Linked DNA regions of Homo sapiens. The protein of the gene in region 1 purifies or fractionates together with the protein of each later gene. This does not show direct contact. Each region holds a gene or a part of one and is shown in the gene's direction. Other genes may lie near its edges. The genes, in order: PLAAT4, RMC1, CASTOR2, CCZ1B, CCZ1, PPP1R9A and MIOS.

Region 1 (3,500 bases):
CATTAGATTCTCATAGGAGTGCAAACCCCATTGGGAACTGCACATGCAAGGGATCAGGCTCACTGCAGTCTTGACCTCCCCGAGTTCAGGCCAGGTGATCCTCCCACATCAGCCTTCTGAATAGCTGAGACGAGATGATAGGCGTGTGCCACCACGCGCAGCTAATTTTTGTATTTTTTGTAGAGACAGGTCTCGCCATGTTGTCCAGGCTGGTCTCGAACTCCTGAGCTCAAGTGGTCCACCTGTTTAGGCCTCCCAAAGTGCTGGGATTACAGGCATGAGCCACTGCGCCCAGCCAACAGGATTTTCTTAAGAGGGTTCTAAATGCAAACATCAGCCTTGAGATTAGAAACGGGGCAAAAGAGGTAACACACCTAATTATTGTGTGCATTAGGTACTATCCATTTTAATAAAAATAAGATAACACCTGGAGTCACTATATAATGGAATTGGGGCTCCATTGGTTGACAGCTCTTCTGTGTTCCTCTCTATGTGCCTAGAACTGTGCCAGATTGTAGGACAGAAGACACTTTACAAAGGATTCCCTCAGGGTCAGCCCAGTGCAGTGGAAGGAGCCTGCCCTTTGGGGCTTAAGAGAAGCAGTTTCACATCCTGATTCTAGGACTTTTCATAGCACAGAAAAGTCTCATGATGTCTCTCAGCCCAATATTGGTTTTTAAATTGAGATGATAATATTTTCCTTGAAAGTTAAAAAGGAGATTAAATTAGGAAGTATGTGTAACAGCACAGCATGGTAACTGAAACAGTGGGTACTAAACGAATTGGATCTTTTTCCGAAACACAAGTGTACAAAGCTGAACAGGTAATAAATATGCTTTACCATCATTGTTTATAATGATGAAAATTTTTCCAATACCTAAATGACGGATAACAGGGGATTGGCCACAGAAGTGATGTACATGCATAGCATGGAATATGGCAGCAGCCACTGGCAATCATGACATTCACTGACTTGAACGAACATTCACACCTTATTTTATTAAAAAAAGAGAGCAAAATCTATTAGCCCGGCGTGGTGGTGGGTGCCTGTAGTCCCAGCTACTCGGGAGGGTGAGGCAGGAGAATGGCGTGTACCCAGGAGATGGAGCTTGCAGTGAGCTGAGATCGCGTCACTGCACTCCAGCCTGGGCAACAGAGTGAGACTCCATCAAAATAAAAAAAAAAAGCAAAATCTGTGAATCCTTCAATCACATTTGTGAAAGGATAAACACCAGTAGTTCCTTAGTGGAGATTTCAAGCCCTTCTCTCCCTACTTCACCTTCCCCTGCCAGTGAGAGTGCCTCTGATTGCAGGTGAGTACCCCGGGGCTGGCTCCTCCAGTGTCTTCTCAGTCCTGAGCAACAGTGCAGAGGTGAAACGGGAGCGCCTGGAAGATGTGGTGGGAGGCTGTTGCTATCGGGTCAACAACAGCTTGGACCATGAGTACCAACCACGGCCCGTGGAGGTGATCATCAGTTCTGCGAAGGAGATGGTTGGTCAGAAGATGAAGTACAGTATTGTGAGCAGGAACTGTGAGCACTTTGTCACCCAGCTGAGATATGGCAAGTCCCGCTGTAAACAGGTAAGGACCTCTCTGGATAATCCATCTCCCTCTGCTTGGGGCTGGACTCACGGGGCTGTGCAGCCAGGCGATCACTGTGAATGATGCAAATGCAGCCTCTTAGAGACCTGCTGGCTGAGAGTCAGGACCTCTGAGCTCCAATGCCAGATCTGCTTCTAATCCACAGAGGGTCTTTGGACAGTTCCCTTCCCCCCAGGCCTCTCCATGTGCAGAGGAGGGGGTGGATGGAGGAGCTCTGAGGATCCTTCCCCTCTAAAACCTATCCTGAAAATGGCTCCTGAAGTTCTGGGGGTCATCAGGAGAATCTGGGCCAACCCAGGACAATGACAGGTCCTGCAACCCCCCAAAGAGTACTCAGGCAAGGGACGCTCAGGGTCCGTGGACCTGTGTAAGAGCTCAAGGACATTTGTGTGTAAGATCTGGGCACAGCCTCCATCCCTTGCCCCTTCACAGTCTTTCACATTTGTTGCCCCAAAACACTCAACTAATAAGTGGCAGAACCGGGATTTGAACCCCAGCTGTCCCTTTCTAGAGTCTCTGCCTGTGATGCCTACTCAGGGCCCCTGGCCTGCGTGACTGAATGGTTGGGGGCCCTTGATGAGAGAGGGATGGTGGCAGGAGTAGAGGCTTTGCGGAGGGAAATCCAGAGTTTGGCGTGGCATGTGATGTCTGAGGTGCCCCATTAGAGGCCCAGGTGGAGATAAGGCATGGAGTTTAGGCTGAAGTACAGCTGGAGATGGAAGTTTCCAGGCTGCAGTTGGGAATAGTACACAGTGACCCCAGGGCACGCATATGGCCATGGCCTCCCTAAGTCTCCCCTCAGCTTCTGCCACAGCCCTCCCTGTGCAAAGGTGTAGCTCAGGGAGGACCCAGACTGCAAAATAGTCCCCAGTCTGGCCCCTGGAGCTCTGACCCTAGGAAGCGAGGCACAAACCTTCTTCCTTGCCCCAAATCAGAACAAATGTCCTCACTTGGAAGCTCTCTCAAAAGGACCTCATGGGCCCATTCTCAGGACAAGCCCAGACAAGTCGAACACCAAGAAGTGGTCACAGCCCAGAAAATGGAGTCCCTGGGGATACAACCAACGGCTTCTCTGGGAGAGGATTCTGAGCCAGCCAGCTGGGAGAGAAGAGAGGAGATGCCAGGCCTTAGGGGAGGCAGGAGAGAGGGGAGAGGGAGAGGAGTTCCAGGCCCTTGGGAGGGAGAAAGTGCCAGCCTGGCTTGCCGTGAACGCTCAACAAAAGCTGCTTGCTTTGCAGGTGGAAAAGGCCAAGGTTGAAGTCGGTGTGGCCACGGCGCTTGGAATCCTGGTTGTTGCTGGATGCTCTTTTGCGATTAGGAGATACCAAAAAAAAGCGACAGCCTGAAGCAGCCACAAAATCCTGTGTTAGAAGCAGCTGTGGGGGTCCCAGTGGAGATGAGCCTCCCCCATGCCTCCAGCAGCCTGACCCTCGTGCCCTGTCTCAGGCGTTCTCTAGATCCTTTCCTCTGTTTCCCTCTCTCGCTGGCAAAAGTATGATCTAATTGAAACAAGACTGAAGGATCAATAAACAGCCATCTGCCCCTTCAGAAAGGACTTCTACCATGTTTTTATAGACTTCTGAATCACAAAGGAGGAAGGTAACATTGAGTGAACACTCACTGGGTAGTTCCAGCAATTTCTAGCCGGGTGACTTTAGAGAAGGCTCTTGATTCTCAGAACCTCAGTTCTTCCATGTCAGGTGATGTCAGGAGGATCACCTACGATAATGCATACACGACACCCAGCACTATGTCTGATATGTAACAGATGTTCAAGGAATTGTCTTCATCATTCTACACAGACATAACAGCGACATAATTGCATGTCATTAATTTTACTCTCAGGGAGGCGAAAAAAACCTAATTACCTTCCGGTATCGTCTCATGTGGTGCTTAA
Region 2 (3,500 bases), on another chromosome or scaffold:
CTACAATTGAATAAACATTTCGTAATGACATTAAAAAGTATTGACTTTTGTGTCATAAGTACCAGCATTTGCAGCATTTTCTGACTGCATCGTTGCACTTATGTTTTCTCAATTTGTAGGTCCTGCTGCCGTGACCAGCCAGTCTCCTGTTCCATGTAAACTCTGTATCCTTTACTAAGGTGTGGCACCGTGCACAACAGGGCAAGTGGTCACCCTCAGAGAGTGGTCCTGAAGTCCTCCTCCGGGCAGCTGTGAATAACACTCCGAGAGCCACCCCGCAGGCAGCTTCCCTGACTGTCCAGGGGCCTCGCGTTTAGCGTGGACTCAGTACATGGTGGGCAGGGGCGAGTGCTAGCGGAAACTGGGTTTGCTTTTTGTTTTCATCTTTTCCTGGTTTAGAATTTCCTATAACATGTGGATTCTTCATCTTGGATTGTCTTTCAACCTGACATCATTATCAGCGCAAGCCAAGGTAGGTCAGCGGGGACAGTTGTCGTGTTACAACATGGTGCTTGTTGACTTTGGATCCCAGTTGTAGCCAGGGACGTTTTCAAGGTGAATCTCTTAGAAATGACCCCTCCTTTCAAGCGTGGGAATGGGATTTTTTTTTTTCACTTTATACGTTTTTTACTATATGTGCATTTTATCAAGAACATATACTACTTTTAATAATTAAAGCAACAACTAAGAATGCCATTCTCCTGCTTAAGCCCATTCTGGAAAAGCCAGACTCCACCCCAGGGTGGATGGAAAGCCGGACTCCACCCCAGGGTGTCTCCCTCATTTCTCCCATCGACCTTCCCACCGGTGTCCGTGCCCTTTTCTGTTCTGCATGAGCCCGGGAGGTGTGCTCCTCTTTCTGGCCTTGCTGAGGAAGCCTCCTCAGTCTGTTAATTGTCTCTTCCTGGGTAATCTCTTTATTAGAGAAATCTTTTTTTTTTTTTTTTTTTTTTTTGAGACGGAGTTTTGCTCGTTGCCCAGGCTGGAGTGCAATGGCGTGATCTTGGCTCACTGCAACCTCCGCCTCCCGGGTTCAAGCGATTCTCCTGCCTCAGCCTCCTGAATAGCTGGGATTACAGGCATGTGCCACCACGCCCAGCTAATTTTGTATTTTTAGTAGAGACGAGGTTTTTCCATGTTGGTCAGGCTGGTCTCAAACTCCCAACCTCAGGTGATCCGCCTGCCTCGGCCTCCCAAAGTGCTGGGATTACAGGCATGAGCCACTGTGCCCGGCCTAAAGAAATCTTATTTTTTTAAGGCAGGGTCTTGCTCCGTCACCCAGCCTGGAGTGCAGTAGTGCTATCTCAGCTTACTGCAGCCTTGAGCTCCTGGGCTCAGGCGATCCTCCTGCTTCAGCCTCCCAAGTAGCTGGGCCTACAGGCGCACATCACCACGCCCAGTTAATTTATTATAATAATAATAATAATTATTTTGAGACGGAATCTCGCTTTGTCACCAGGCTGGAGTGCAGTGGTGCCATCTCGGCTCACTGCAACCTCCAACTCCTGGGTTTAAGCGATTCTCCTGCCTCAGCCTCCCCAGTAGCTGGGATTACAGGCATGCGCCACCACACCCAGCTAATTTTTGTATTTTTAGTAGATACGGGGTTTCACCATGTTGGCCAGGATGGTCTCGATCTCCTGACCTCGTGATCTGCCCACCTCAGCCTCCCAAAGTGCTGGGATTACAGGTGTGAGCCACCACAGCCGGCCTATAATTTTTTTTTTGTAGAGACAGGGTCTTGCCATGTTGCCCCTGTGTCTCTAATACCTCGCCAGGCTGGTTATTAGAGAATCTCCTATGTTACTCTTTAATCCTCTGTGTATTTTCCTGCCTTTCCTCTGGAATTCCTAAGAACTCTTGAGGAGAGAATTAGCCCTGATGCTGTAGGCATCCACTGTATGTAATGCATTGTTGTGCCTTGTCTGTAACCCATAGCCTCATGTGACATCCACTGTATGTATGTAATGAAGTCATTTCTCTCCTGTGCATCTCGCTGGTGTTTTCCTGTACAGCTGCTCTGTACCTGCCTTGGGCCAACTGAAAAGGGGGTCACCCAGATGATTTTTTATGTGGCACTTCATTCTCCTGTGGCATCCCAATTGGGAAAGGCCACACCAGATGCTGGCAGTGTGGGTGATCAGTACATTTATGGGTCGATGAATGGATGAGTTATGATGTTCCATTGAGAGCCTCTGGAGTTACCTTTTAAACTAATGAGCTGTTGTAGGAGAAACCAAAGCACAGGACTGAAGTTGATGCCACGTGTTGACATCTTTTTCTATTTTAAACGTTAAAAGAGGGGCTAGGTCTAGGGAAGTCCCCGTTTGGAATGAAGGACTAGGAGCTACACCTTTGATGTGCCCCTGAATGCAGAGGTTACTTGGAAAAGAGTCAGCCAGGTGTGCGGTGGTTGGGCTGTCATCCTCCTGTGGTAGACACGCTCCTGAATTGCTCCTGAATGGCTCAGCTCTGCTTTGGTTAGGAAGGAAAAGCTACACTGACTGTACTTTGCGGCTTTTTATCACCACCTGCCACCCGCCCCGCAGATGTTTAGGGGAACCACTTTTGGGCTTTTGTTACGGTTTGCATCATACTGTTTTATTTGCTGCCTCTTAAAATCCAGGTTACCTCTGGAACCTCCAAGTGAAACTTGAGCCCATAGTAAATCTCTTACCAGACAAAGGAAGACTCATGGACTTTCTCCTCCAGAGAAAGGAATGCAAGATGGTCATCCTGTCTGTCTGTTCACAGAGTAAGTTGAATCCTTCCCCCTTGCTCTGATTCCAGTGTGAGGCCTGTGCTGCCCAACACTTTTTATCGGGATGTGGGCTACATTGTTGTGTCTTGTCTGTGACCCACAGCCTCATTCTTTATGTGAGGGGTGGCTATGTGACCCCCTAGGAAAGGCTGCTAAATGGAAAGATGATTTGTAGAGATACTGGTAGAAAAGAACAATAAATGGGATGGTTCTGAATGAAAGTGGGCACACAGGAGGGGAGTGGGCCACCACCCCTGGCCTTCACACACACCTCTTTCAAAATCCAAGCCACTCACTGCATATGTGTCTTCTTTAAGAATCCCCTACTGAGGCCAGGCATGGTGGCTCATGCTTATAATCCCAGCACTCTGGGAGGCTGAAGCAGGAGGATTGCCTGAGCCTAGGAGTTCGAGACCAGCCTGGACGACAACATGGCAAAACCCTGTCTCTACAAAAAAAAAAAAAAAAAAAAAAAAAATTAGCTGAGTTTGGTGGTATACACCTGTGGCCCCAGCTACTCCAGAGGCTGCCGAGGGAGGATTCCTTGAGCCCGGGAGGACGAGGCTGCAGCGAGCCGTTTGTGTCAGTGTACCTCCAGCCTGGGCGACAGAGCAAGACCCTGTATCCAAAAAAAAATAATAATAATAATCCCCTACCAATATGTGCTGTTGGTGTTTGTTTTTGTTTTGGTATAGATGGGGTCTTGCCTTGTTGCCCAGGCTGGTCTCAAACTCCCAGC
Region 3 (3,500 bases), on another chromosome or scaffold:
AGAACAAAGCCAGCAGCTCAAAGAGCCTGTGACATGGGACGTGGGAAGGGTGCTGAGAGCCCGCTGTGGCGTGGGTCATGCCTTCTGCACCCCACTTTCCCCAGGCAAGATCCCTGGGCGCCCTTATTTGGGGGGATGTTGATCCCGAGGGAGGAGTATTTGGAATTTCTTGCTTTTAACCAGAATGCCCCCTCTCCCCTGCCCTCGCCAGCAGCCTCACCCTGAAGACCTGGGCCTGCTGAATGGGCCACACGCTGCCTGTGTCCTGCCTCCGTGGGTGGCACTTTTTACGCAGGCAGCTTCTCTGTTTTTTTTGTTTTTTGTAACCTGCAAGCTTAGAAATCTCAGGTTGTGCTCCTGGGGCTGCTCCTGGGGACTGGCCTCGTGTCATGGAGAAAAGCATGTGTGTCGGGGCGCGCTGGGGCCAGGGTATGGCTCTCCGCCCTGGCTGGCTCTGCAGGGGTGGTCCCTGTTCAAGCCCGCTCCGTGGGAGCTGCCCCCTGGGGACCCTGCTCCTCGGTCACAGGGGGCCCCTTTAGTTTTCCCATCCCCATCCTGCTCGTGTAAAGCTTGGTTTATCTTCTCGGCGTTCTGTGTGTAGCGTAGTCTTGGTTTGGTCTCCACAGCTCTTCGGGGTGGGGTGTGAGTGTGGTTTTTCCCAGGCAGGGGCCGTCTGCCCTTGTCCCCCAGCTATCTCCTGGTCTGCTGGGTGGGAGGGTCTCTCCAGGCCCCAGACCCCACTTGGAGGGGCATGTGTTTCTCAGAGGGGCTCCATCCGCAGTTGCATGGAACTCCTTACCTGTTTGCCGTCCATCCCCCGGAGGTAATCAGAGGAGTGGGCCTGTTGTCTTGGCGCTGGCGGATGGGGCAGGTGCCTGGCGGGGGAGGAAGAGGGCTCTCTATGATGTGGAATTTTTTTTTTTTTTTTTTTGAGACGGAGTCTTGCTCTGTCGCCCAGGCTGGAGTGCTGTGGCATGATCTCAGCTCACTGCAGCAACCTCCACTTCCTGGGTTCAAGCGAGTCTCCTACATTGGCCTCCCAAGTAGGTGAGATTACAGGCACTCACCACCACACGCGGCTAATTTTTGTATTTTTGGTAGAGACGGGGTTTCACCATGTTGGCCACGCTGGTCTTGAACTCCTGACCTCAAGTGATCCACCCACCTTGGCCTCCCGAAGTGCTGGGATTACAGGCATGAGCCACCGTGCCCGGCCTCATGGAATTTCTAGGGGTGAGCAGGTGACCCTGGGGCTGCCACTTGAGCTCCTGGAGTGTGTGTCTTGGCCCCTGTGTGGTTCTCCATTAAGAAAAGCTCAGATAGTCTCAACCCCACCCTCTCCCCTTGCTGCACTCAGAGTACCAGTGGGAGCTGAAGGATGGGGAGGAACAGAGCAGTGACCACCCCTCCCTGCCACTGATAAGTTCTGCCTCGTCGTGGGGCTCCCCTGGTTCCCAAGACACCCCTTCCTCCCTCAGCCCGTCGTCCTAACCCAGCAAAGATCTGGGCATTGCTGACTCTGCACCTCCTTCCTCCATGGGCATCTCCAGGACCGCCCTCCTTCAAGGGGCACTGCCCACACCACTGTCCTCAGCCCGAGGCATGCATCTGAGCTGGAGAGGCTTGCAGGCCTGACCCTGGTAGCTTCCCCTCCCCAAGATTCAGAGGCGGGGACCCAAAGCCTCACTCCAAACCACTGGCATTCTCACCTCCTCTCACCTCCAGGCACCAGGCTGCTGGTGGGAAAGGAAGGAGCTGGGGGATCAGAGGCTTCCAGTGTGGCCTCCGGAAGCAGCAGCGTAGCCAGGGTGACATTTGTTCAGCAGGAGGAGGCTTGGTCTGGAGGGGCTTGCCCCTCTGAGGTGACAGAGGATGCCCTGGAGGTCAGGAGAGAAGACTGGGAAGACAGGAAGGGCCAGGCCCCTGTTAAAGCCCAGGGCACTATTTGGTGATCTTCAAAGGTGAACACAGGCCACCTCCCACTGGCCCCCTCCTCCTGGCCACATTTTCCAGGGATACCCTGGGGAGTCCTAAGGCCACCCTGGGCCCCTTTCTGAGCCTAGAGATCTGGATGTGGTGACAACCAGGGCTTTTCCCAGCCCCAGCTAAGAGAGGGGGCTTTAGGGCAAGAGCACCTCAGCCCTGCAATGGGGGGATCTTTTTTTTTTTTTTTTTTTGAGACAGGCTGGAGTGCAGTGGTGCGATCTCGGTTCGCTGCAACCTCTGCTTCCCAGGTTCAAGTGATTCTCCTGCCTCAGCCTCCCAAGTAGCTGGGATTACAGGCACCCACCACCACGCTCGGCTAATTTTTGTATTTTTAGTAGAGACAGGGTTTCACTATGTTGGCCAGGCTGTTCTTGAACTCCTGACCTCAGGTGATCCGCCCACCTTGGCCTCCCAAAGTGCTGGGATTACAGGCATGAGATACCCCGCCTGGCCAATGGGATTTTTGACGCCACTTCCTGAGTGAAGCGCTTTGCATGGGGATGGGAAGAAGCACCCCCAACCTTCTAGTCCGCTCCGAGCAGGGCCTGGAGCATTGGAGACATTGGTTAGTGTAATAGGCAGAGCCTGAGTGAGGCCGGGGGGCTTCTCCAACAGAGAAAAGACATTGGCTTTGGGTACCATGCTGAGGGAGGGGGTTAGGCCTGGTGGGGGCCCATTCAAAGGAGGCCGGGCTCGGTGGCTTAGGCCTGTCATCCCAGCACTTTGGGAGACCAAGGTGGGAGGATAGCTTGAGGCCAAGATAGCAAGACCAACCTGGTCAACATAGCAAGACCCTGCCTCTACAAGAAAATAACGAAAGAGGCCCCAGGGAAGGAAGCCAGCCAGGAGCAGCCTGGAGCAGAGGCAGGAGCCTGAGGCCTGAGCCATGGCATCCAGGGACAGCCTGGTGGCCGAGAGAGCTTGTGGCTGTCACTATAAGGGAAGAGGAGCTATGGAAATTGGAAGTGCAGGGTGGCCTGTGTGCTAGGAGTGGGGGTGCAGGCCTAGGTGTGTTTATGCACACGTTTGTGCATGTACCTGTGAGCGTGGATGTGTTCCTATGCATTAGAGTGTGTGCGTGCACGTGTGCAGAGCCCACACCTGAGATATGGGACTGGCTCTTGGAGTATTTTGAGTTCTCAGTAGCAGTCTTGTTGTCAGGCCTTGAGTGCAGAAATGATTAGGTGAGTGAGGGCAGGACTCGAATGCAGACCCTGGCTCCAGGGGAGAGGGTGGGGCGTCTCTGGTAGGACGGCCTCACCCCACTTGTCAGAACTACTCTGGAGGGGGGCAAAGGTGTCAGGAACAGTTTGAGCAGTTCTGGCTCAGGGTCATTCATGAGGTTGCTGTTGTCTGAAATCTTAGCTAAGGATTGGAGGATGCACTTCTAAGTGAGGCCTGGCTGTAGGCAGGAGGCCTCAGTCCTTCCCCAGGTGGGCCAACCCACAGGGCTGCTTGAGTGTCTTCACAATATGGCGCTCGGCTTCCCCCCAGAGCAAGAGATTCAAGGGCCC
Region 4 (3,500 bases), on another chromosome or scaffold:
ACTTACCCCTATCTCTAGGCTCCAGGGTTGTTTAAAGAGAAGTCTATAAATGACTGCAAAGTGACTCTGTATTTGTCTTAGAGAAGAAAATAATGAGGCCTTTGAAACAGGTAGTGAGGTTTATGCCTACATTTATTCAGTAAGTATTGAACTCCCTTCTCTTTTCTCAGCCTTATAGTAGGAATGTGTCCCCATTGATGAAAAAGTGTATCTATGTGCTCAAGGAACATACAGAATGCAGATAATTTTATGATTTAAAAGTTTCAGTGAGGCAGGGCACAGTGGATCACACCTGTAATTTCAGCATTCTGGGAGGCTAAGGTGGGAGGATTGCTTGAGCCCAGGAATTCAGGACCAGTCTGGGCAATATAGCAAGACCCCATCTCTACAAAAAAATTTTATAAAAGTTAGCCAGGTATCATGGTGCATGCCTGTAGTCCCAGCTACCTGGGAGGCTGAGGTGGGAGGATCGCTCGCACCTTGGAGGTCGAGGCTGCAGTGAACTGTGATTGCACCACTGCACTCTACCCTGGGCAACAGCGAGATTCCATCTCAAAAAAAAAAAAAAAGGATAAAAAGTTTGGTGATTCCATTTATTAACAGAACACTGAAAAATAAAAAAACAGAAATGTGGGTGATATTATGTATGTAAATTGAAACTTAAGGGTAAGTTGAAATTTTTGAAAGATGCCTAGAGCAATTAGGTGGTTTCATAAAACAGCATCACTTAACAGTATTTTTTGTAACTTACATTTTTAACTCAAGTTTTCTCACGTAAATATTCTCTGTTGGAAAGAACTGGGAGATTTAATGAGCTGAATTAATAATCTAAAGGAAAAAAAGAACTTGTTATACTGAAAAAGTGAGCATAGGAAACTGATTTTTTTTTCTGCAATCTTTTACCTCACTAGCTTTTTAATGGTACATTTCTGAAAGCCATGGAAGACGGAGGCGTCAAGCTTCTGAAAGAAAGATTAGAGAAATTCTTCCATCGGGTAAGTATTTTGAATTTCATTTATAACTTTACTAAGCATTCATCAGGTTTTTAGAGAAATATAGACAGACAAGTTTGTTTCTTATCTACAAAAAACCCAGAACTTGAAAGTGGCAAAGAGCCTGAGACAGACCGTCGCAAAACTGGAGCAGCGAGGAAACGCATGAGGCGTGTGCTCTGGAACCTTCCCTCCAGCTGTGGTGTAAGGCAGAGCTTCCTGCGTTTGCCCGGGGCTCTTAAAGGGTCCTGGAGACATCGTTTGGCCTCCCTGTGTTTTACCTGCATCTGTCCTTCTGGGCTTACTCAGCAGCCATCTTTTGTGTGATAGATTAGTTGATAAGGAAAACTTAATTATTGGAGTTGCACAATCTCAGGGATTGGTTCTGTTCACTAAACGGGCGTAAACTGTCTTGATGTAGGTAAGAGTTATTGGCCTTGACAGACTTTGTCAGATTAGCGATTGGGGAGATTTGTTCCAAGTGCTGTCCTCTTTCGTTGTAATTGAATTTTGCATGTTTCACCCTACCTTGTCAAGCTCAGTTTATCTTTTTTTTTAAAAGGAAACAAAGAGACAGGGTCTTGTCTTGGCTGTTTTGCCCAGGCTGGTTTCAAGCGATCTTCCCTCCTTGGCCTCCCAAAGTGCTGGGGTTAAAGGCGTGAGCCAACTCGCCTAGCCTAGTTTATCTTGAAGCAACAATTCTCAATTTATTTTCTTCTGAAAATACCTTCTGTATCTATTTTTGAATTCGACTTTCTAAAACAGCTTTCATAGCTATTTTTGAATTTTTTTGTTTCTCTGAATTACTTTTCTTTGTTGTTTTGTCATTTTAATGACCACAATTATCCACTCGCATATTATCTCCTGGTTTCTGTTCTTGTCCTCATTTCTCTCTTACCCGTCAACATATGGATAGAACTGTTGTCCTGAGTACATATCATTTAGACATGATTTTAGTATAAGATGGCACTCTTGGCTGGGTGTGGTGGCTTACGCCTGTAATCCCAGCACTTTGGGAGGCCGAGGCGGGCAGATCTTGAGGTCATGAGTTCGAGACCAGCCTGGCCAACATGGTGAAACCTCGTCTCTACTAAAAAATACCAAAAAACTAGCTGGGCGTGGTGGCGCACGCCTGTAATCCCAGCTATTCTGGAGGCTGAGGCAGGAGAATCGCTTGAACCCCAGAGGCAGAGGTTGCAGTGAGCCGAGATCGCACCGCTGCACTCCAGCCTGGGTGACAGACCAAGACTCCATCTCGGGGGGGAAATAAAGATGGCACTCTCTGTAGTATTAATGGATAGATCCCTCATTAGGTTAGTCTAATTTGAAGAGCATTAAGGCAGGGAGTTAATTTTTTTTTTTTTTTTTGAGACAGAGTCTTACTCTTGTCACCCAGGCTAGAGTGCAATGGTGTGATCTTGGCTCACTGCAACCTTAGTCTCCCAAGTTCAAGTGATTCTCCTGTCTCAGCCTCCTGAATAGTTGGGATTACAGGCTACCACGCCCGGCTAATGTTGTAATTTTATTAGAGACGGGGTTTTGCCATGTTGGCGAGGCTGGTCTCAAACTCCTGACCTCAAGTGATGTGCCCGCCTTGGCCTCCCAAAGGGCTGGGATTACAGGCGCGAGCCGCTGTGCCTGGCCAGGAATTAAATACTTGAAAGTGCTAGCTGGGCACAGTGGCTCATGCCTGTATTCCCAGCGCTTTGGGATGCCTAGACACGAGAATCACGGAGGCCAGAAGTTCAAGACCAGCCTAGGCAACATAGCAAGACTCTGTCTATACCAAAAAAAAAAAAAAATTTTTGGCCAGGCGTGGTGGCTCACACCTCTAATCCCAGCACTTTGGGAGGCTGAGGCAGGCAGATCACGAGTCAGGAGATTGAGACCATCCTGGCTAACATGGTGAAACCCTGTCTCTACTAAAAATGGAAAAAAATAGCTGGGCATGGTGGCAGGCGCCTGTAGTCCCAGCTGCTCAGGAGGCTGAGGCAGGAGAATGGTGTGAACCTGGAAGGCGGAGCTTGCAGTAAGCTGAGATCGCACCACTGCACTCCAGCCTGGATGACAGAGCAAGACTCTGTCACAAAAAAATAAATTTAAAGCAGTAAAACACAATACTGAATAAACATTAAGTAGATAGTTTGAACTTTGTATCTTGGAATTGGTACTGAGTTGACACTCAGTCACCCATGTCTTCACCACGGCCTCATTGTTGTGCTGTTTGCTAGTATGTAATTGTACCATAAATGTGAGTCTGACATAAGATTATTTTCAGTTATCAAGGAGCATTATATTCAGTGTACTATTAGTAAATTTTATGCCTTATTTTTTTTCCACAGTATTTGCAAACGCTACATTTGCAGTCATGTGACCTACTTGACATTTTTGGTGGAATCAGCTTCTTCCCGTTGGATAAAATGACTTATTTGAAAATCCAGTCCTTTATTAATAGAATGGAGGAAAGCCTGAATATAGTCAAATACACTGCTTTTCTCTATAACGATC
Region 5 (3,500 bases), on another chromosome or scaffold:
TTGTCTGTCTCCTTTTAAAAAACCGGTTCCAGAGTCTGATACCTGCTAGTTTCTCTGTGCTTTTTCCATGTGCTGCTCCTTCCTGCCTCATTTCAGATCAGGTGGTTTGCCTGAAAGCTTGTTTTTCTCCTCCTCCTCTTTCTTCACCGAAGATCCGGAGAATTAAAATCCATGTACATTTCTGAGACCTAGGATCACGTTCCCTGTCTACAGCATACCCATATTTTCCCAGGGGACTAGGGGAGAGAATGTGGCATTACCATATAACCCAGGAAGCTAAGAGACATCTGCTCCTAAAATGAAACAGTGTGGCTTTGGAGGTTTCCTGCATAATCCTACACGGAATTCAACCAGCGAGTCCAATCCCTTGTGACTTTTTTTTTTTTTTTATCTCAAATGGCATGTAAAATACAGGACTGTAGGAGTAGCCTTTTGCAGGTCAGGATAAAGTTCCAGTGCCTGGACTCAAGTTTAACCCTTTACCTTCCTTAACTTCGCAGTCAGGTGGTGAGCCTCTTGATATAATGTTAAAGAGAAAAGCACCAGTAGTCCCAGCTACTCAGGAGGCTGAGGTGGGAGGTTCGCTTGAGCCTGGGAATCGGTGGCTGCAGCAAGCTGTGGTCACACCACTGTAATCCAGCCTGGGCGACAGACGAGACTCATCTCTTGAAAAATGAAAAAAGATGAGGCCAGGCACAGTGGCTCACATATGTAATCCCAGCACTTTAGGAGGCTGAGGCGGGAGCACTGCTTGAGTCCAGCAGTTCGAAACCAGCCTGGCAACGTAGCAAGACCCCCATCTCTACATAAAATACAAAAATTAGCTGATGGTGGCGCATGCCTGTAGTCCCAGCTAGTCTGGAGGCTGAGATGGGAGGACCGCTTGAGCCCTGGAGGCCAAGGCTGCAGTGAGCCATGATCGCACCACTGCTTCCAGCCTGGGTGACAGAGCAAGACCTTGTCTCAAAAAAAAAAAGAAAAAAAAATTTTTTTTAATAAAAAATGAGTTTTATCCAGGGCTTCAAATTCTTTGGAAAAGTTTGACAAAGTATACCACGTAAATTCAGATTTACCTCAATGCTAAGAATTATGTTTAGGAAAAAGGAAACTCATTTTGATCTCAGGTACAAAAATAGATTGCTTTGAGTTTTAAGTAGCTTTAGACTTTAAAAAGTTAGAATTTATTCTGTGTTACTAAAAATGACTTGAAAAAAAAATTTTTGTTTAATGAGCTTTATCACAGCAGTGGAAAGACAGAAGACAGTTCCAAACGTTTAACCCAGTGCTTTTCTGTTGTTGCAGGAGTGGATTAGAACAAGATGACATGAGAATTTTATACAAATACCTTACCACCTCCCTTTTTCCAAGGCACATCGAACCTGAGGTATGATGGGTACCATAGCTGCGCACAATTACATGCAGGGGCACAGAGAGGGCAGGTGGAGTGAGATGGTGGTGCATGGGGGCGTTTCTGATCGTTTCTGATGTATGTTTTGTCTTACTGTGATATTTGTGTCACTGTATATCAATTAGCACAGAAAACCACATGCAGCTCTCCTCCAGTATGTGACATTCAGATGTGATACAGAAAGCATCGTTTTGTGTGTCTGTGTGTTGGTTTTTTTGTGTGTGTTTTTGTTTGTTTGGTTTTTGAGACGGAGTCTCGAACTTTCGCCTGGGATGGAGAGGTTCAAGCAATTCTCCTTGCCTCGGCCTCCCAAGTACCTGGGATTACAGGTGCCTGCCACCACGCCCAGCTAATTTTTTTGTATTTTTAGTAGAGACAGGTTTCACTATGTTGGCCAGGCTGGTCTCGAACTCCTGACCTTGTGATCTGCCCACCTTGGCCTCCCAAAGTGCTGGGATTACAGGCGTGAGCCACCGCCCCCAGTCCACAAGCATGTTTTTAAGAGGAGTGAGTCATTGAGTAGAGGAAAATTGGATTTTACTTTACTTTTAATTTATGTATTTTATTTTATTTATTTATTTATTTATTTATTTATTTATTTATTTATTTATTGGGACAGAGTTTTGTTCTTTTCGCCCAGGCTGGAGTGCAGTAGTGCAATCTCAGCTCACTGCAACTTCCGCTTCCTGGATTCAAACAATTCTCCGGCCTCAGGCTCCCGAGTAGCTGAGATTATAGGCACCTGCCACCATGCCCGGCTAATTTTTATATTTTTAGTAGAGACGGAGTTTCACCATGTTGGCCAGGCTGGTCTCGAACTCCTGACCTCAGGTGATTGACCCGCCACAGCCTTCCAAAGTGCTGGGATTACAGGCGTGAGCTACTGCTCCTGGCCAAAAAATTGGATTTTAGATCGGGTTCTAGGAACCTTTAAAATGCCAGTGATCTTTAAAACAATCGACTTGTGTAGTCTTTTCCTCTATCAACAGGAGACCTAATTTTCAGTAGATGTTTTAGTGCCTACCCGGCTTTCCACTCTAGTACTTAATTTCCCGGTTTCCTGCAGAGAACTTTTAAATGATATCACTGTGTTCTCCCCAAAGTATTTTCAGAGCTTAACATACAAAAATCATTTTGGCTCAGTTGAACTCACTCTCTTCGCTTGTTCGTTCCCTCCCTCTTGTCCTCCTGCTTTCCAAGTTTTTTTTTAAGAGACGAGGTCTCACTTTGTTGACTCGCATGGTCTCAAACTCCTGGGCTCAAGCGGTCGTGTCACCTCAGCCTCCCAAGTAGCTGAGACTACAGGTGTGTGCCACCACACCTGGCTAATTTTTTGTAGAGATGGGATCTCGTCATGTTGCCCAGGCTATTCTCAAACTCCTGGGCTCAAGTAATCTGCCTGCCTTGGCCTCCCAAAGTGCTGGGATTATAGGCATGAGCCACCTCACCTGGCCAAAAATTTAAAAACTAGCCAGGTTTGGTCACACATGCCTCTATCAGGAGGCTGAGGTGGGAGGATTGCTTGAGCCTAGGAGTTCAAGGCTGCAGTGAGCCATGATCATGCTGCACGCATTCCAGCCTGGGCAACAGAACAAGATCCTGTCTCTAAAAGAAAAAGACAAATGGCATGGAACCAATTAGTAGATAATGCTGTTTTTCAAAGCTTGGAAAATAAATAAAAAGTCTGATAAGTCATTCTCAACATTAAATGTATTTGCAGTTAGCAGGAAGGGATTCTCCAATAAGAGCAGAAATGCCAGGAAATCTTCAACACTATGGAAGGTAGGACTTCTGTTCTTTGATTTATGATACTGGGTTTTCTTTCTTTTTTGACTCAGAGTCTGGCTCTGTTACCCAGGCTGGAGAGCAGTGGCAAGATCTCCGCTCACTGCAACCTCCGCCTCCCCGGGCTCAAGTGACTGTCATGCCTCAGCCTCCCAAGTAGCTGGAACTACAGGCATGAGCCACTATGCCTGGGTAATTCATTTTGTATTTTTAGTAGAAACAGGGTTTCATCATGTTGGCCAGGCTGGTCTTGAACTCCTGACTTCAAGTGATCCACCTGCCTTGGCCTCCCAAAGTGCTGGGATTA
Region 6 (3,500 bases), on another chromosome or scaffold:
CAGGCACATATCATATGATTTAAAGGTACAAGGCTATCCCAGCCTGGCTGTAGCAGTTTGCTTATGCAGGGTGGAGTAGTTACACACAAAAGTGAGCCAGTAGGTTAAGTATATAGCTTTAGAAGTTAAACATCTTAGATAACTTGCCATATTACTAGGAAACCACAAGAAGTTTGACCAGAGGAATAAAAAGGAAAAGACACCACCAGGTATGGAGAAGCTGAGTTAGGAGACCCTATGAGGTGGTGCCCTCTAAAGAGGAGCAGTAGACAGTGACAGGAAAGAATGATTCAAGGACCCTTGAGACATACCTTGACTAGGTAACAGGTAAGAAAGTGAGGCAAAACTATCATGGGCTTCACGCCTCAGAACATATGGTCTTGTCATTAACAGAAAATAGGAAATCAGCAACATGATGGGGGAAATAGGATTAACTCATTTTTTTAACAGAGGAGGTCATGAGCGCAAGAGAGAGGTCAGGACTGCCAGGTAGATTTGGGAGTCCCCATTATAAAGGAAGAGATAGTCAAGTATCTTATTACAGTGAGATTAAGGAGATGCAGTCCAGTACAAGACCTTAGGATTTGGCCATCAGGAGATCATTTATTATTTGAAAATGAAAACCAGGTTGCCACAGCTTAAAGTTGAGGCACCCAATCTGGGGGCTCAGATGTATAATTGGTCACAAAGGTAGTATTGGAGAGATTTTAAAAAGCCTAACAGAAGTCTTACGTAGAGCTAAATAAACAAAATGTATGTTTCTTTTTTCCTGAAATCATACCAATCTAATGTTGGATTTTATGCAGACTAGAAGTTCTAGTGTGCATTAAAGATGGATTTAATCGATTTTAAATGGGAAAGTACATTATTCCTTATTCTTAACATCTTCAGCCCTATGGAAGCATTCATTTCAGTGTTCCTGGGAACGCACTTTGGCAAATGTGTGAGATAAAGATGTAAGGTTGCCTAGCACCAAGCTCTGTGATAGGCAGAATCAGGCTTTTAGTCGCATGATGTCCAAATAACTGCAACACTCATGGGTTACAGAGTGTTTTCGTGTACATTGCCTCAGCTGGTCTTCTCAGCGCTCATTGTAACATCTCCCAGCTACCTCTCATTCAGGAAATAATTAGGCAGTCTCCTTTTAACTTTGCATAGTCCTAGCCATTAAGAGTTGCTTTAGGATTGATCTGGAAGAATTTGGCACTTTCTTTTCTTCAGCTTCTATTAAGAAAATTTAAATCTTGCTTTTAAAAATAAAATCCATTAGTAAAATCACCTTAGAAGGTGTTTGTGCCATGTCTATGTCTATGGATTTTTTTATATGATTGTGTCACATCTGTGACAATTCAGTTACCCAAAGAGTAATGATGCAAATATGCATAATAAATATTTGAGGCTTGAAGTGGATTTTTGACACAGACATATTTCTGACTCTTGTGTTTCATTATGTACATTTCAGTGAGTTGCTTATTGTAATCTAAGTATCATTAACTAAAAATATGAAAAGCTCATTGCTAAAAACATTTGGAGTATTTGTCAGTGTCCTGTGCTGCTTGAGAGCTTTGAACCTAGACTGCTATCCATGAACTGTGTGTGTACTTCATGTTTTTTAAAGGTGTATGTCGATGTGTGTTGAGAAATTTCTCTTGAAGTAAACAAAAATCATGAGCAACATTAACCTGCAAAGTTAATTGAACACTTTTTTAAGAGGGCCATTCTCTTTGCCTTCCATACTAGAAAGTTCCTAGAAATTTAAAACACATTTTAAAAGATAAGAGACAGAAAAACAGATACCAAAAAAGAACTGGGGAGGAAGAGTTTCACACATAAAAAACATCAAATTTAAAACAGCATTTGTTAATCATCTGAGCTAATTGGATATGCTGAAACGTGATGCCGATCAGTACCCTCTGCTGAATAGTTTGGGTAGAGCCTGTCCGAGATGGAACAAGTGCCACCAGTGGAATTGGTTCCCACCTTGACATTGAACTCCATTTGCAAAGCCTGTCTTCCTATTGGCTTTTGGTATCATTTCGAGGGTCCCCATTCCCCAGCAGCTGCTACCTTTGAGAGTCCTAGAGGCAAAGATCAGTCTGCTCTGAACACTGAGGAGATTTTGGCATCTTCCACATTAAGGGGAACCAGCCAAGTTTTGCTGTAACCTAACTATTAAGAAGGCCCTTTCAAAGATATAAATGTTTTGTAGCTGAGCCCCTGTTTAAGGAGTCTCCCCCATGTCCTCCCCTCCTCTGTTCCAGGACCGGCCACAGGCCATTAGCAAAGGAGAGCCAGAGAAGAAAACTTTGACTCTGACTTTCCCCCTAAATCTCCCAGACTCTCAGAGGTGATATTCTGCGCTGGGCTTTGGAGATACGGGAGAAGTGGGCTATGTTCCTGTTAGAAGGCACTACAACCCCAAGGCAAGAAAGGAATGGAGGACAGAGCCCAGGCACTTGAAGCCAAGAATTTGGAGCCAGAGAAGGAACAAAAGTCATGTTGGTCCCTACTTCGAATGCAGAGGATGATTTGAGAGTATTTATTCTCCCTTGTTCATTCCCATGCAGTTGAAGCTAAAACTCTTTGTGATGAATGTTGAGCCTCTGTCCTATAGAGGACCTCCCCTGCTTAACTGCGAGTTCCTCAATGTAACTGTGTCTCCTAGGTCGTATAAGAAGGCATTGATTATTTATTTTACAATTAGGAATTTAGGCAAAGCCCTTAGATTCAGAGATGCATTGACTTTTGAATTGTGACTTTAAAAATAATAATAATTGATCTTTTTCACAAATGTGTATATCCTAGATGATGCCAAAGATCCCAAATCACTAAGGGCATCCAGTTCATTGGCGGTGCAAGGAGGAAAAATTAAGCGGAAGTTTGTGGATCTGGGGTAAGCACTTCACGATGTAAAAAGAAAGCCCTCTGTAAAAGGAGGATTGAAAGAGAAAATTTCAGCTTCCCCTTTCTGACTGCTTACTATCATTACAGGGCGCCTTTGCGAAGGAATTCCAGCAAGGGAAAGAAGTGGAAAGAAAAAGAAAAAGAAGCCAGTAGGTTTTCTGCAGGTAGCAGGTACGGTTGTGTGATTAAGAACACGTGTATTTCTATACCTAAACTTTCTGGCCCCCTCTTCTATTGTTAACCAAAATCAGTGGTCAGTATCTTTGAGCTAAAGTGATATGCCAAGAATTGAGATGGAAGAAAAATTGCACAATTAGTTTATATTGGTCTTACTCCAATTATAGCCTCCATCTAGCCTTGGGCATATCCATTGGTTCTTAATTGCAGAATTATGGCCACATGAACCATTTCAATAAGTGTTTATCTAAATTCAGCACAAATATATCTATGTGATACTTCAGAAATATCAAATATATTTATGTGATACTTCAGATTTTTTGCCTGGCTACCCACAATGCTAGTGCATTGTATTAAGTCTAAAAGGATAATCATTTTGCATTTAAGTACCTTGTTGACATTCAAGATTGTCTTGTCCA
Region 7 (3,500 bases), on another chromosome or scaffold:
AATACAGTTTTCATTTAGTATTTTTTAAAAAGAAAGAGATAAGGTTTTTTTACTCTGGCATTTTGCCAGAGGATCCTCGGAAAAACAAATCCTAATACAAAACCTCAGGGGTTTTTTTCTTATCAGGAATATTTCGCTTGGAAATAACTAAAATATATATAGCTATTGGTCTTTAGTACACCTAAAAAATAATTTTTGAATATTCAGAATACTGAATCCTTACTTGCTGGTCCATTTTGAAACCATTATAGTTTAGCTGTAGCATAGAGAAAAACATGAAATTCACTGTAATTTTTTTTGTAGTCTAAAAGTTAAAAAAGTCAATGTTTTGCTCAGATTGGCATCTTTTCCTTCACCTTTGCTCTAACAAAAGTCTCCCTCATTTAAGAGTGCAATAGAAAATAGGTGATGATGGAAAAAAGAATTGATATTTAAAGCCATTTCTAATTATAATTTTGCTATAACTTGAAAGGGTGATACTTTCCTATCTTGTGTACCTGGGAAATTTGGTGGTCGATTTAAACACCCATACTAACAATAGGGAAAATGTATCTTTCCAGTGATTTTAAGGACTGAAGAGAAGACTTCTCTGAGTCAAACATTCTTTTCCATTTAGAAGTAAATTGTTCTATACAAAATCCAAAGATACTTCTTTGCTATTTTTATTTTTATTTTAAAAGACCTTAAATCTAATGTATTAGGCAAAGGAAGCAAGCACAAAGTAACTTGGGAAAGTGTTTATAGAAATGAGGAATATAAAGCTGTTAAGAACATAAAGTGGGAAACACTGCTTTATTTGGAAAAGAAAGAAAAAGATTAGAATCAAGAAATAGATTAAGAAAACTTATATAATAAGTGTAGAAAATACTTAAAAGTCAAAGTTAAAGGAAAATTCAGTTTTTTCTTTTGAAGCTGAACTTCGGTTAGAAGACTAGGCAGCCATACTGCTGAAGGCAAAGTTAGCAGCTTATCAGCATGCATCTAAACTGCTAAGAACAAATGTTTAAAAGACTATTGGTAACAAATGCTTTCTTGCAAATGGGTCTAAATGCAGTTCTGTGGTAATTCTTGTAGTTCATTTTGTCCTGGAAAAATTGTAAGTGTAATACTGTAATTAAAGTATTGAAATATTACTTTCTGCACTTTGCATTGACACTTATATACATAAGTGTCTGCATTATATATTTAGGAATAGGAAAATAAAATGATTTTGAATATTGCAGTCTTGAGATGCAATATTTACTATAAGTGTTTTTGAAATACCTTTACATTAATAAACTTGTTAAAGTTGACAGTGATTCTGGTAGGATGACTTCACTTTTCTTCATTTAGTAAGCAATAACATACATATATGGGAACATACACAGGAATAACTTATATAAGACCCTGCCTGGATTGAGAACTTGAAAAGTAAAAGATCTGCTTCCCTGCACAGAGTTTGCACACATGGGCATGAGTTTTATAAGGGTAGAAATGTTTTGCTTATTGTCTTTGCCAAATTTTCCAGTCTGAATCAAAACCCAAACCCCCCCCTTTTTTTTTTTTTTCAAGAGTAAAGTGCAACTTTATTAAGAAAGTAAAGGAATAAAAGAATGGCTACTCCATAGGCAGAGCAGCCCAAAACCCTTATTCTCTGAGCTCATTTTTCTGAGGGTAAAAGTCACCCTCTGATTTCTATTTATGGTTTAAGAAATGTAGAAGAGATATTAAGCTTTTGATCACTTTGATTAGCTGGCTGTTTTTAATATGCAGGAGATCTGAATCTCAATGTGGTAGCAATGGCTTTATCGGGTTATACGGATGAGAAGAACTCCCTTTGGAGAGAAATGTGTAGCACACTGCGATTACAGCTAAATAACCCGTATTTGTGTGTCATGTTTGCATTTCTGACAAGTGAAACAGGATCTTACGATGGAGTTTTGGTAAGCTAACTTGTTTTTTAAGATCTTCCTTTGAATTAAGATAGGAGTTTTTATCTAACTTTATTAAAATTTTCAAATGTCTGTTGCATAAAATATTATATTTTTATGCATATGTTATTTAAAATAAGGCATCTTGGGCTTTTTTTTTGAGCAGCTCTTCTTGAGTGTGATTCCCGTCCTAGAGTTAGTTAACTGATACCAAACTGGATTTGATTTTTATGGTTTTAATATAATTTACAGATATAGAAGGAATAAAGATTTTATCCTTTAGCTTAAGAACTGAGCTGTAGAAATCTACAGCTGTGTAAACATAAAAATATATTCGCTGTTTACACTGTGCACACATGCACGTGTGTGTGTGTGTGTGTGTGTGTGTGTGTGTGTGTGTGTAGTTAAATAAAACAACTCACGATTATTGATCAGTTATGGTGGAGGTGGCCATACATCTTGTCCCAGTTAGTCTTTGTGGTTCCTGTTAGGAATGATAACAGTACTTACAGTGGACTATTTCAGCTTTTTATTTGGTCTTTGTGTTATTCTTTTTCTCTTCTGTTTTAACCACCTGTGATCATAACACAATCAAATAGGTTCTTTATCACAAAACGGGGAAAGAAAGAATGAAGTGAGATTTGCTTACCAGTTTTAGCTATTGGGTTTTAAGCTAAACAATAGTACTACAACTTTCTTTGCACTACTTGGCTTCTTTCTAGCAGTGGGAAGAACTTTCTACACTGAAATTCATTTCTGTGTTTGCTACTGTACCATTTCTTATCAATTATACATTTCTTGAATAAGTGATTTAAGGATTAGTCCCTAAGAATTTGTAAAAATATGTATTTTATTGGAGCAGCTTAATGAAATGTTTAATAAATGTGTATTTTGCACTTTATGTACTTTATTACTTTTAATAAATTACTATTGAACTTTTTCTGACCAATTCAAATTAATACGTATAATGTTAGGACTTTATTTTTTAACTGTAATTAATCTTTTTTGTTAAACAGAAGACTTTAAATGTATCTTGGAGAGATAAAATAATGCTTTCACGAAGTGTTAGAGAATGATAGAGACTAGATAAACAAGTGGATTGTTAACTTCTGAATTGATAAAAGATGTATATTGTTTAAATATTAAATTTCTGCATTTTAAGTTAAGTGACCCATAATAAGTACTTTTCTTTCCCTTTTTTTTTTTTTTTTTTTTGTTGTTGTTGTTGTTGTTTTTGAGACAGTGTCTTGCTCTGTACCCATACTGGAGTGCAGTGGTGCAATGGCAGCTCACTGCAACCTCCACCTCCTGGGTTTAAGTGATTCTTGTGCCTCAGCCTCCCAAGTAGCTGAGACTGCAGGCATGCACCACCATGCCGGCTAATTTTTGTATTTTTAGTAGAGACGGGGTTTCCTCATGTTGGCCAGAAATATCAATTCTGGTCTCGAACTCCTGATCTTGAATGATCCACCTGACTTGGCCTCCCAAAGTGCTGGGATTACAGATGTGAGCCGCCATGCCCTGCCCCAGTATCCTTGTTTTGCTATACATAAATTTGAGTTATTAGATAACAGTCATCTTGAGTACGAA

The links.
Region 2: the proteins of PLAAT4 (region 1) and RMC1 purify together in Homo sapiens (affinity purification with mass spectrometry; one large-scale study listed by BioGRID and IntAct). This does not show direct contact.
Region 3: the proteins of PLAAT4 (region 1) and CASTOR2 purify together in Homo sapiens (affinity purification with mass spectrometry; one large-scale study listed by BioGRID and IntAct). This does not show direct contact.
Region 4: the proteins of PLAAT4 (region 1) and CCZ1B purify together in Homo sapiens (co-immunoprecipitation; one large-scale study listed by IntAct). This does not show direct contact.
Region 5: the proteins of PLAAT4 (region 1) and CCZ1 purify together in Homo sapiens (affinity purification with mass spectrometry, with the first as the bait; one large-scale study listed by BioGRID). This does not show direct contact.
Region 6: the proteins of PLAAT4 (region 1) and PPP1R9A purify together in Homo sapiens (affinity purification with mass spectrometry; one large-scale study listed by BioGRID and IntAct). This does not show direct contact.
Region 7: the proteins of PLAAT4 (region 1) and MIOS purify together in Homo sapiens (affinity purification with mass spectrometry; one large-scale study listed by BioGRID and IntAct). This does not show direct contact.

The regions. Positions count from the first base shown.
Region 1 is NC_000011.10:63,543,308-63,546,807, forward strand, and holds the end of PLAAT4 (phospholipase A and acyltransferase 4), read left to right. Parts: intron 1-1,313; coding exon 1,314-1,582; intron 1,583-2,841; coding exon 2,842-2,949; 3' UTR 2,950-3,151; downstream 3,152-3,500. UniProt on the Homo sapiens protein: Exhibits both phospholipase A1/2 and acyltransferase activities. Shows phospholipase A1 (PLA1) and A2 (PLA2), catalyzing the calcium-independent release of fatty acids from the sn-1 or sn-2 position of glycerophospholipids.
Region 2 is NC_000018.10:23,524,011-23,527,510, forward strand, and holds part of RMC1 (regulator of MON1-CCZ1 complex), read left to right. Parts: intron 1-119; coding exon 120-164; intron 165-418; coding exon 419-472; intron 473-2,626; coding exon 2,627-2,755; intron 2,756-3,500. UniProt on the Homo sapiens protein: Component of the CCZ1-MON1 RAB7A guanine exchange factor (GEF). Acts as a positive regulator of CCZ1-MON1A/B function necessary for endosomal/autophagic flux and efficient RAB7A localization.
Region 3 is NC_000007.14:75,027,205-75,030,704, forward strand, and holds part of CASTOR2 (cytosolic arginine sensor for mTORC1 subunit 2), read left to right. Parts: 3' UTR 1-827; coding exon of another isoform or gene 828-875; 3' UTR 876-3,500. UniProt on the Homo sapiens protein: Functions as a negative regulator of the TORC1 signaling pathway through the GATOR complex. As part of homodimers or heterodimers with CASTOR1, directly binds and inhibits the GATOR subcomplex GATOR2 and thereby mTORC1.
Region 4 is NC_000007.14:6,819,776-6,823,275, reverse strand, and holds part of CCZ1B (vacuolar fusion protein CCZ1 homolog B), read left to right. Parts: intron 1-911; coding exon 912-995; intron 996-3,334; coding exon 3,335-3,500.
Region 5 is NC_000007.14:5,908,733-5,912,232, forward strand, and holds part of CCZ1 (vacuolar fusion protein CCZ1 homolog), read left to right. Parts: intron 1-1,302; coding exon 1,303-1,384; intron 1,385-3,128; coding exon 3,129-3,190; intron 3,191-3,500. UniProt on the Homo sapiens protein: Acts in concert with MON1A, as a guanine exchange factor (GEF) for RAB7, promotes the exchange of GDP to GTP, converting it from an inactive GDP-bound form into an active GTP-bound form.
Region 6 is NC_000007.14:95,271,094-95,274,593, forward strand, and holds part of PPP1R9A (neurabin-1), read left to right. Parts: intron 1-2,805; coding exon 2,806-2,893; intron 2,894-2,991; coding exon 2,992-3,075; intron 3,076-3,500. UniProt on the Homo sapiens protein: Binds to actin filaments (F-actin) and shows cross-linking activity. Binds along the sides of the F-actin. May be involved in neurite formation. Inhibits protein phosphatase 1-alpha activity.
Region 7 is NC_000007.14:7,583,884-7,587,383, forward strand, and holds part of MIOS (GATOR2 complex protein MIOS), read left to right. Parts: intron 1-1,752; coding exon 1,753-1,922; intron 1,923-3,500. UniProt on the Homo sapiens protein: As a component of the GATOR2 complex, functions as an activator of the amino acid-sensing branch of the mTORC1 signaling pathway. The GATOR2 complex indirectly activates mTORC1 through the inhibition of the GATOR1 subcomplex.